Linked DNA regions of Homo sapiens. The protein of the gene in region 1 purifies or fractionates together with the protein of each later gene. This does not show direct contact. Each region holds a gene or a part of one and is shown on either strand. Other genes may lie near its edges. The genes, in order: ARL3, ARPC1A and ARPC2.

Region 1 (3,653 bases):
ACAGGCATGCGCCACCATGCCTGGCTAATTTTGTATTTTTAGTAGAGATGGGGTTTCTCCATGTTGGTCAGGCTGGTCTTGAACTCCCGACCTCAGGTGATCCGCCCGCCTCAGCCTCCCAAAGTGCTGGGATTACAGGTGTGAGCCACTGCACCGGGCTGGAAGTCTTCATTTTTAAGACAGTTACTTGAGGTGAAACTTTGAGGAAGGTGAGCAAATCAGGGACAGGCAGAATTGCCAGGTGGGGGTCAGTGTGGAAAGAAACAAATTAACAAGCCCTTTGGGGTTCCCAGAGAATGTATTGCATGAACAAGAATTTTTTTTAAAGTCTTCTTGCAAAAATTACATAGGGAAACCAGGATTTGAAAAACCCAGTCAACAGCTTGCTACCACAGAAGAGACATTTCATCCAGAATAACTGGAGTTAGATAGCTTTGGGGATGCCTCCACAAACATTTGTTTCATGTGGTAGCCTGTCAACACTGCTGCCTGGCACAGAAGGAGAAGGCACAGTGCAATAGGACAGGAATATTGCCACCCAATTTCCACTGCGGATACACAGTCTCTGGAGGATAACTGGGGATCCTGCTGACTCTCACTTCTCTAACACGCCAATGACTGAATACATTAGAAGTTCGAGAATTCTAAAGGGAAATGGCTTAAGCTTATTGAAAAAAGTTTCATTGTGACTCACTGGCAAAACTACTTTAGTGTATTTAAAAATTCCACACTCAACAATGATATTAAATGTCAAACTCAGTAATACTGAATCCTTTCTGGAATAAAGCAGAAAATAAATAACAGTAAATCTTGGAATACAAGTAACAGTGAATCTTGGAATTTGACCATATGTATCAATGGGCTTAAACAGCTATAAGTCATGAGACCCAACAAATCTAGGAATTTATTCTGAGGAAATAATAATGATGAATGGGCAAAAACATTTAGAGATGTATATTACATAAGTATTTACATATATAATAACATAGAAAGATGTTCATGATCTATTATTAAGTGAACAAGAGGAGACAGGTTCAGTGGCTCACACCCATAATCCCAATTTTGGGAGACTGAGGCGGGAGGACTGCTTGAGCCCAGGAGTTCAAGGCCAGCCTGGGCAATGTAGTGAGACCCCATCTCTACCAAAAAAAAAAAAAAAAAAAAATTAGCTGGGTGTGGTGGCACATGCCTGCAGTCCTAACTACTCAGGAGCCTGAGGTGGGAAGATTGCTTGAACCCAGGAATTTGAGGCTGCAGTGAGCTATGGATGGTGCCACTGTACTCCAGCCTGGCCGACAGAGTGAAACCCCGTCTCTAAAAAAAATCTATATCTAGATATAGATGATACAAGCTAGTATATCCTCTATGAGCCATTTTTATTTTTTATTTTAAATATACCCATCATATATATGCATAGAAAAAAACTTGATACATTCCTAAATGTGAACAGTGGTATGTCTGACTGGGCATTATAGGTGACTTTTAGTTTCTCAATTGTATTTATTTATACTTCCTAAATTTACTACAATGAGCATTTATTACTTTTTCTAATATAAAACAAAAAACATAATAAAAGTTTGTTTTTAAAGAATATGAAACCTTGACACAATATAATATCAGAGTTACCTATAACACATCAAACAAAGCCTGAAGGTTAGAATGAGAACTTTGGGTTCCTAACTTTGAGTTTATTTCTGTGTTTGCAGTGTGGAAGTCTTCACGTTAGTGTTCTTGAGAGACACAGTTTATTGCTAATACTAAAAAAACAAAAACAAAAACAAAAAAACCCCACAAGCGCATGCACACAAAAACTAGTGCTTCTTTTTCTGGCAGAAATCTTGACACACTAATATGTGTTTTCAGCCCTTCTAGGCTAGATTACTGTAATTTGCTTGGGCTATACATTAAATTTGTTCAGAAGCTGTAAAAATTGTTCATTTGGTAGCAGTTGAAATGACTTTTCCATAAAGAGTTGTGAATCAGTAAGACTCATGGGCCGTGAAGTATGCATGCACACCAGCACAGCCATTCAAACCTGACACCAGGGTCTTATCACGGTACAGTGATGGAAAATAACTCTGGTTTTGCTAAAACCTCTAACCTTTAATGCTCAAACACTTTAAAGTGACTAAGACCAACAAGCTCTCCCTGTTGGCTTAGCCAAAGGTCAGGCATTCTTAGGATTTCCTACAGGGAATGAGTTCTAAGAAACCCACTACAGTTTTTCCAATCAGGTCTTGTCTTTTTTTTTTTTTTTTTTTTTTGAGACGGAGTCTCACTCTGTCGCCAGGCTGGAGTGCAATGGCACAATCTCAGCTCACTGTAATCTCCGCCTCCCAAGTTCAAGCCATTCTCCTGCCTCAGTCTCCTGAGTAGCTGGGATAACAGGTGCACACCACCACATCCAGCTAATTTTTGTATTTTTAGTAGAGACAGGATTTCACCATGTTGTCCAGGATGGTCTCCATGTCCTGACCTCATGATCCACCCACCTCGGCCTCCCAAAGTGCTGGGATTACAGGCATGAGCCATGGTGCCCAGGACTTGTCTTTTTTTTTTTTTTTTTTTTTTTTTTTTTTTTTTTTGTGATGGAGTCTCGCTCTGTCGCCCAGGCTGGAGTGCAGTGGCATGATCTCGGCTCACTGCAAGCTCCACCTCCTGGGTTCACGCCATTCTCCTGCCTCAGCCTCCCAAGTAGCTGGGACTACAGGTGCCCACTGCCACGCCCAGCCAATTTTTTGTATTTTTAGTAGAGACGGGGTTTCACCATGTTAGCCAGGATGGTCTCGATCTCCTGACCTTGTGATCCGCCCACCTCGGCCTCCCAAAGTGCTGGGATTATGGGCATGAGCCACCACGCCCGGCCCAGGACTCATCTTTAAACCTCCACGCTGTGAGCACTATCATTCCCTTATCCTTTATGCTTTGCTTGCTTGCCCTTTTCAGGAAAGAGGAAGGTTGATGAGACTGGATTTAAAAAGGCAGGTAATTGGCCGGGCAAGGTGGTTCACGCCTGTAATCCTAGCACTTTGGGAGGCCGAGGCAGGTGGACTGCCTGAGCTCAGGAGTTCGAGACCAGCCTGGGCAACAACGGTGAAACCCTGTCTCTACTAAAATACAACAAATTAGCCAGGCGTGGTGGCGTGCACCTGTAGTCCCAGCTACTTGGGAGGCTGAGGCAGGAGAATCACTTGAACCCAGGAGGCGCAGGTTGCAGTGAGCTGAGATTGCACTGCTGCATTCCAGCCTGGGAAACAGAACGAGACTCTGTCTCCAAAAAAAAAAAAAAAAAAAAAAAGGCAGGTAATTTTTTTTTCTTTTAAAAATTGATACATATTTGTATTTATTAAGTCTGAAAAGTACACGGTAAAATATTAACCATGGTTTTTCTCAGAGTTTTCTCCTTTATACTTTCTCTGTGTTTTCTACATGCACTACTTTCATAATCAGAGAAGATAAAGCTATTTTTTAAAAAAGAATAGGCTGGGTGTGGTGGCTCACACCTGTAATCCCAGCACTTTGGGAGGCTGGGGTGGGTGGATCATTGAGGTCTGGAGTTTGAGACCAGCCTGGCCAACATGGCAAAACCCTGGCTCTACAAAAAAATACAAAAATTAGCGGGCCATGGCGGTGTGCGCCTGTAATCCCAGCTA
Region 2 (3,653 bases), on another chromosome or scaffold:
TCCCACAGATTGCTTATTAACTACAAAGAGAAAAAGATGCCTTTACGTTGAAGAAATCTGGCAATCACCACGTAATCACCATGTTATAAATAGTGGATCAATCTAACTGGATGGGCCTCCTGATGGCAGTCCACATGAAGTACACATCGTCACTTATAAATAGTGACTTAACGTACCATCCAAACCAGAACACTTCTGAGAGCAAAAATAAATAATAATTATGCCAACACAACAGGTCACAGGGCTATCCTGGAGAAACCTGGGAATATGGTCAACCTACCAATGAAGTCTCTATGCCAAACATATTTACTCTAAATCCAATCAAGATTCAGATCTAATTTTCAGTTTACAAGAAATAAAGGATAAAGGAACTAGTCAAGCAACACAAGGAGGAAATAAACAGTTAAAGCCAGGGTGTGTGCCATTCTATAGAAGAACTGGCCTGGACTATTCCAAAAAGGCAATATGGAGGCAGGATGAGAACTGTTCTAGAGAGCTATGAAAACCAAATTTGATAAGTGAAAGTTGATTATAATATAATTTCTTTTTTTTGAGACAGAGTCTCACTCTGTTGCCCAGACTGGAGTACAGTGGCACCATCTCAGCTCACTGCAACCTCCACTTCCTGGACTCAGGTGATCCTCCTGCCTCAGCCTCCTGAGTAGCTGGGATTACAAGTGTGCACCACCAGGCCCAGCTAATTTTTGTATTTTTAGTAGAGATGGACTTTCACCATGTTGGCCAGGCTGGTCTTGAACACCTGGCCTCAAGTGACCCGCCCTCCTCAGCCTCCCAAAGTGCTGAGATTACAGGTGTGAGCCACTGTGCCTGGCCCATAATCCACATTTTAAAAAATGGGCAGAAAAGATGTATTTTGTATAACAGGGAAAATTACAATTTAAACTAGATATTACATATGGAATTATTTTCATTTTCTTAGGTGTGATAACGGTATTGCCATTAGATAGGAGAATGTCCTAGCTCTTAGGAGACAAAGATAATGATGAAGTGTTCAGGGATGAAGTATCATGATGTCTTCTGTAACTTCTTTTCTTTTTTTGGGTGGGGGGCAGGGGAGATAGGGTCTTGCTCTCTCACCCAGGTTTGGAGGGCAGTGGTGCAATCTATGCTCACTGCAGCCTCCGTCTTCTGGCCTCAAGTGATCCTCCCACCTCAGCCTCCTGAGTAGCTGTGGCTACAAGCATGCACCACCAAGCCCAGGTAATTTTTGTAGAGATGGGGTTTCACCATGTTGCCCAGGCTGCTCTGACTGGGCTCAAGTGATCCACCTGCCTCAGCCTCCCAAAGTGCTGGGATTACAGGCATGAGTCACCATGCCCAGCCACTGTAACTTATTTTCAATAGTTCAGGACAGAAAATATATAGAATGTGAATGTGGCAAAATGCTAACTGGTGAATCTAGGCAAAGAGTATGTAGGCGTTTGTGATAATACTTTTTAAACTTTTAATTGTAACTAAATGAAAAGCAGGAATCTGCAAAACATTAAATTAAAAATTCTCTATTTTATAGGTACCCAAATCTAGATACACTTGAAGAAGCAACCATTAACTGAAATGGGAACATTTTTCAAAAAGCAGCCAGCCTTCCTCTACCCCCAACTTTATCATTTCCAGGAGGCACCCTCACAATAAACTCAAGTTTCAACACACGTAAGTATGTGTCATGTTAACCTTGGGTGGAGGCTGAAATGTGAGATATGAATTCTGATGCAAGCAGGAAATGAATGGAAGGGCCACTAGAAGGTTGTAAAGTGAACAATGAAAGTTCAGCTGACAAAGCAGAAATCAGTCTCAGAAAGCAGAAGCAGCACCTCTGCTAATTGTAAAGGAACCCAGGCCAGGCATGGTGGCTCAAGCCTGTAATCCCAGCACTTTGGGAGGCCGAGGTGGGCGGATCACCTGAGGTCGGGAGTTCGAGACCAGCCTGGCCAACATGGCGAAACCCTATCTCTACTAAAAATACAAAAATCAGACGGGCATGGTGGCAGGCACCTGTAATTCCAGCTACTCAGGAGGCTGAGGCACAAGAATCTCTTGAACATGGGAGGCGGAGGTTGCAGTGAGCCAAGATGGTGCCACTGCACTGCAGCCTAGGTGACAGAGTGAGACTCTGTATCAAAACAAAACAAACAAACAAACAAAAAGGGGGGGGGAACCCAAAGGTAAGTGCAACTTTAAATAAAAAACATCTGATACCTTGAACTGGCAGAGAAATGCTAGCATTTCATATTCTATTCTAAGAGTGAAGATAGTTAAGTCATTACTTTTTTCTTTTATACAGTCGAGAAAGCAAACTACAACTAACAAAGAAAAAGCTTAGGAATTGGCAATTTAAAAAAATTTTAAATGCATTCAAATGAGAATGTTTAATTTGTTTTTTTTTTTTACAAGAACTTCCAGATGCTCACTGCATGCTTCTCTCTTTATCTCTGATATCAGATGCTCACTCCAAATTGTTCCATCACAACAGATTTTAGTAACAGCTACTCAAAATAACATGCTGTTATAACTCCTTAATTAAAAGCGCTTTAGTTCAAAAGCCACATTTGATAAGCTTATTTGTTAACTAAAAATAAAATCGGTCTGCAAATCAGAAATTTGATGTGAATATCTACGTGCCATAAAAGTACATGGTTCATGTCCAGTTGAAAAGTACAGCTGCAGACAAAAGGCTTTCTCATGTTCAACTCAGTGTTTTATAAGCAATGTAGCAAAGACTTCAAAAGAGGTGGCCATTTACACAACAGTGTAATTACTTCTAAAATTGCATTTCTAATTTTGCCATATCATTCAAGTTCCATATTTGGACATACACTTAAGACCTGTACTTCTTTTATAATCAGGTGGCTATTTTAAGTCTGCAGGCCAAGACAACACTCATGTTTGTCAAATTTAGAATGCACCTAGCAAACACCACTTGCATTCATGAAACCCAGTGAATGCAGAAGAAATTCCTAATAGCTTGAATTATGTACCAAGAAAGGGTACCTTCTGTCATAGGGTGATAATTATAATTTCTAAACTATGGTTAATGTTTAAGTGAAATCTGAAAAGCTTTGTCTTAATAGAGCTAGAGAGGGAGAAAAGGGGACAAATAAAAATGCCAGGAACTCCTCATCCCTTTTCTTTATTTTCTTTTTTTTTTTTTTGAGACGGAGTCTCGCTCTGTCGCCCAGGCTGGAGTACAGTGGCACGATCTCGGCTCACTGCAAACTCTGCCTCCCGGGTTCACGCCATTCTCCTGCCTCAGCCTCCCGAGTAGCTGGGACTACAGGGGCCCGCCACCACACCCGGCCAATTTTTTTGTATTTTTAGTAGAGATGGGGTTTCACCGTGTTAGCCAGGATGGTCTCGATATCCTGACCTCGTGATCCGCCTGCCTCGGCCTCCCAAAGTGCTGGGATTACAGGCGTGAGCCACCGCGCCCTGCCCCTCATCCCTTTTCTTTTCCTCCCTCCCTCCCCCCTCATCCCTTTTCTCTCTCTCTGAGTTTTTTTCTCAGACAAGGTCTTGCTCTGTCACCCAGGCTGGACTGCAGTGGTGTGATCTCAGTTCACTGCAACCTCGGCTTCCCAGGGTCAAGCCATCCTCCCACTTTAGCCTCCTGAGTAGCTGGGACCACAGGCATGCAT
Region 3 (3,653 bases), on another chromosome or scaffold:
TTCTGAAGGCATGGTTACACAGCCATGTGGCCTGCGTGCCCTTCTACTGCTGCTCAAATACTGCCTCCTAATACCATCTCCAACAAACCCAGGCAGGTACTGCTCTCTTGCTGGAGCTGCCATGTCTTTTCTACAAACCTCTACTATGATATTTTACCATTCATTAATGTATCTGGCTCCCCTACCAGGTTATGAGTTCAAATCAAAGATCCTGCTTAATTTATCTTTGTAATTTATTCTTCTGTCTTTCAAAGAGGCTATGCAGCACATGCCTTGCTGAGAGAAAGCAAGTGCTTCTACCCTAGCTGGTTTAGTATCATCACACTGTACAGGAATAGGCAAGGGCTGTTTCCAGTTGCAGGCAGGAAGAATAAACACTGATTAGCAAGCCCTCTCGACAATTAGTGGCAAAAGAAAGATGATGGCTGAGGAGCCCCAATGCCCAGCCTGGGACCTCACCTATTTCACAAACTGCCTCTCATGCTAACACTACCAAGCTTTAAGTAGGAAAAGAAATGACCATCAACTGGGTTAGATTAGTCCCCTTTTGAACAGATTTTGTTCCCCGAAGGAAAAATATCCAAAAAGGAAGGGAAGGAGTCAAGATTATCCCAAATGGAAATTTCTAGAGCAAAGCTTCTAAAATCGCCCTTCTCTAGAAAACATTTTTTATTCTACAAAGGGGTTAAGAAGCTTTTTAACTTTTACTGGTTTTACTTTTCGGTATTAAGGAATTAAACAGAACAGATACGTAACTGTTGGCATTTTCTTGTGTCTGTTAAGTGTCTCCAAGGCTCTAATTCACAGGTACATGTGGTATTCACAATGAGATGGGGTATTTATAAACCAGTGGTGACTTATTAGCACTCATTAGTTTTGTATATGGAAAATAACATATTTAAGGCTCGGTCAACGATACGTTTCTGGCTTGGGCCTATTCTTTCTTTCTTTTTTGAGACAGGGTCTCACTCTGTCACCCAGGCTGGAGTGCAGTGGCGTGATCTTGGCTCACTGCAACCTCCACCTCCTAGGTTCAAGTGATTTTCATGTGTCAGCCTCACGAGTAGCTGAGATTACAGGCGTGTGCCATCATTCCCGGCTAATTTTTGGCCTTTAAAGTAGAAACAGGGTTTCACCATGTTGGCCAGGCTGGTCTCAAACTGGCCTCTAGTGATCCACCTGCCTAGGCCCCGCAAAGTGCTGGGATTACAGGCGTGAGCCACTGTGCCTGACTGGGACTATTCTTTAGATTCTCTGATGTCTTTGCTTCTCCTCAGTTCTCTCTCCTAAATAAAGCTTAAACAAACAAACACACCCAAACAGCCCTCCATCTTCATTGGCATCTTTGTTATACGTAATCAAGCAATATTGCCTTTTTACTCTCCTTCTGGCTAGGATGTCTTTTGAGCATCAGATTATTTCTCTCTTCCAAAGTACTATTTATCATAGGAAGTTCGGAATAAATCCAAATATATACAAGGCATTTAGCATATGATAAAAGTAGCATCTTAAATCAGGGGTGTAAAAAAGGAAATAATTGCCACTGGGACCACTGGATAGCCATTTAGGAAAAAAAGATCATTCTTTCATACCATACAACAAGAGGAGCTCTCAACAAATAAGAAAAAATCATGTATAAAATATGTAACTGTAAAAATACTCAGAAAATAACAGGTAAATTTCTTTATAACCTTCGAGTAGGGAAGGGCTTTCTACCTATAACTCAAAATCTAGAAGCCATAAAAGGCAAGACTGATTAATTTGATTATGTAAAAACAAACTTCCACATGGTGGAAAAAACCCCACAAAACACGGTCCAATGACAAACTGGAGAAAATATTTCAACTCTTAATCACAGATGAAAGGCTACTCTCCCTAGTATGTAAAGAAATTGAGAAGCTCAATGACCCTACAGAATAATGGGTAAAGGACATAAAGAGACACTTCATAAGAAAATCAAATGGTCTATAACATTAAGAAAAGATGTTCTGACCTCAGAACATCTTTTTATGTCATCATAAGCAGACACAGATACCACCTTTAACCTATCAGATCAGGAGAAATCCACAAGTTTACAACATACTCTGGGAAAACAGGCACTCCTCTCCATCACTGGTAGATGATAAAATGCCACTACCCTGATGGAGAAGAGTTTGGCAATGTCTACCAAAATTACTGACTTGGACTCAGTGTTCCCAGTTCAGGAAAATATCCTACAGACATACCCACACATGCAAACAGGCAGAAAGGGCCCTCAAAATACATCTTTACAACTGCCTAAGAGGCAGGTGCTTGTGTCTTTGTCCCTGAACATATAAAAACCAGTGGTTTCCACTTAACTTTTCCTGGTTATTTAGTTACTAACTTGACTTTAAAATCTTAGAATATGAAAAGAATTCTAGTTCACCATAAGCTAATCTCCAAAAGCATAATTACTGGTCCTATTGCTTTTCATGGAATAAGCATTGAAATGATGGCTTCTATCAGACATTCTCCAGTACTCAGCTGATATGCCCATACCACTAGTGTGGAGGAATACACTTCCTGTCTTTTTCTGAGAGGTAGAAAGCATCCCTCAGAGCCTGCTTGCCAAATGACAAAAGCAAGACTTGAATTCTGATCAGGCTGGATGTGCATGCTGGAAGGGAAAGGCCACAAAGGCTGGCAACAAGTAGACTAGTGACCATGAGGAACTTCAAATAGTGTTCTCAGGGTACAACTTTCTGTGCCAGGTGTCCCTCATTCTTTTTCCGAGAAATTTACAATTCCAGGCCTAGGAAAAAGTTCTATTTATTTTTTGGGAAAATCCAGCAAAAGTCCAGTTTCCGATTGTCATTTCCAACAAATTACCTAAGCCTCTGAATTTGGAAAGGGTGGCAGGGCAGATGACTTCCTGAGTCTAGCTAGCACTGCACCAGGCCAGTTACTATCCAGAGATCCTGTTAGTGCCAAAATGCAAAAGAGGCTTTGTCTTTCCTTTTAGGTAAGTGCCCTACCACAGGTACCCTGAAGGAGGCATTTAAATCATATGCCAAAAAAGAATACACAAAATTCTCCTAAGGAACAAATCTCCGGTACACTCTCCAAGATAAGATCTGTTTAAAGTATAAAAATAAGTTGTTTCCTGGAATAAAATGGAATAAGATTGGTAAAAAACCAGCCAAATCTAAATATATACTTCAGAGCTTTTAAAATTAGTTTTGTTACTCTGGATTTAGCCCAATTTCTGAGCTACTGCATTTAATTCCCCTGTCAATTCTGCATAAAAACACATGAAATGCCTCTCTAGAGGCTTACTTTTAGGACCCAAGAGATACATGTATATTTATATATTCCTTCATCAAGTTCAGCACTAGCAAATGCTGAAGTGTCAATATTCCAATTTTTCTGTATAGTGACTCCCAAACTAGTTTCTGATTAATTAGCCAAAATACAAAAGCCACTAGGGATGGAGCAGTTGAGAATATCACTTTTGAAGATTTTCCTAGCCACTTAGAAGGCTATGCAAAGTATCTTTACTGTTAAGCACAGCTGTCTTTCAACTCTATTTGGCAAAAGAGATTCTGCTTCAGAATTTAAAAATCTTTACCACCCTGCCAAGGAACAGAATGAAGGTAGTAACGTTTTCAAAAAATTTTACCATTGTACTAGAT

The links.
Region 2: the proteins of ARL3 (region 1) and ARPC1A purify together in Homo sapiens (affinity purification with mass spectrometry; one large-scale study listed by BioGRID and IntAct). This does not show direct contact.
Region 3: the proteins of ARL3 (region 1) and ARPC2 purify together in Homo sapiens (affinity purification with mass spectrometry; one large-scale study listed by BioGRID and IntAct). This does not show direct contact.

The regions. Positions count from the first base shown.
Region 1 is NC_000010.11:102,700,877-102,704,529, forward strand, and holds part of ARL3 (ADP-ribosylation factor-like protein 3), read right to left. Parts: intron 1-3,653. UniProt on the Homo sapiens protein: Small GTP-binding protein which cycles between an inactive GDP-bound and an active GTP-bound form, and the rate of cycling is regulated by guanine nucleotide exchange factors (GEF) and GTPase-activating proteins (GAP).
Region 2 is NC_000007.14:99,328,818-99,332,470, reverse strand, and holds part of ARPC1A (actin-related protein 2/3 complex subunit 1A), read right to left. Parts: intron 1-3,653. UniProt on the Homo sapiens protein: Probably functions as a component of the Arp2/3 complex which is involved in regulation of actin polymerization and together with an activating nucleation-promoting factor (NPF) mediates the formation of branched actin networks.
Region 3 is NC_000002.12:218,241,077-218,244,729, reverse strand, and holds part of ARPC2 (actin-related protein 2/3 complex subunit 2), read right to left. Parts: intron 1-3,653. UniProt on the Homo sapiens protein: Actin-binding component of the Arp2/3 complex, a multiprotein complex that mediates actin polymerization upon stimulation by nucleation-promoting factor (NPF).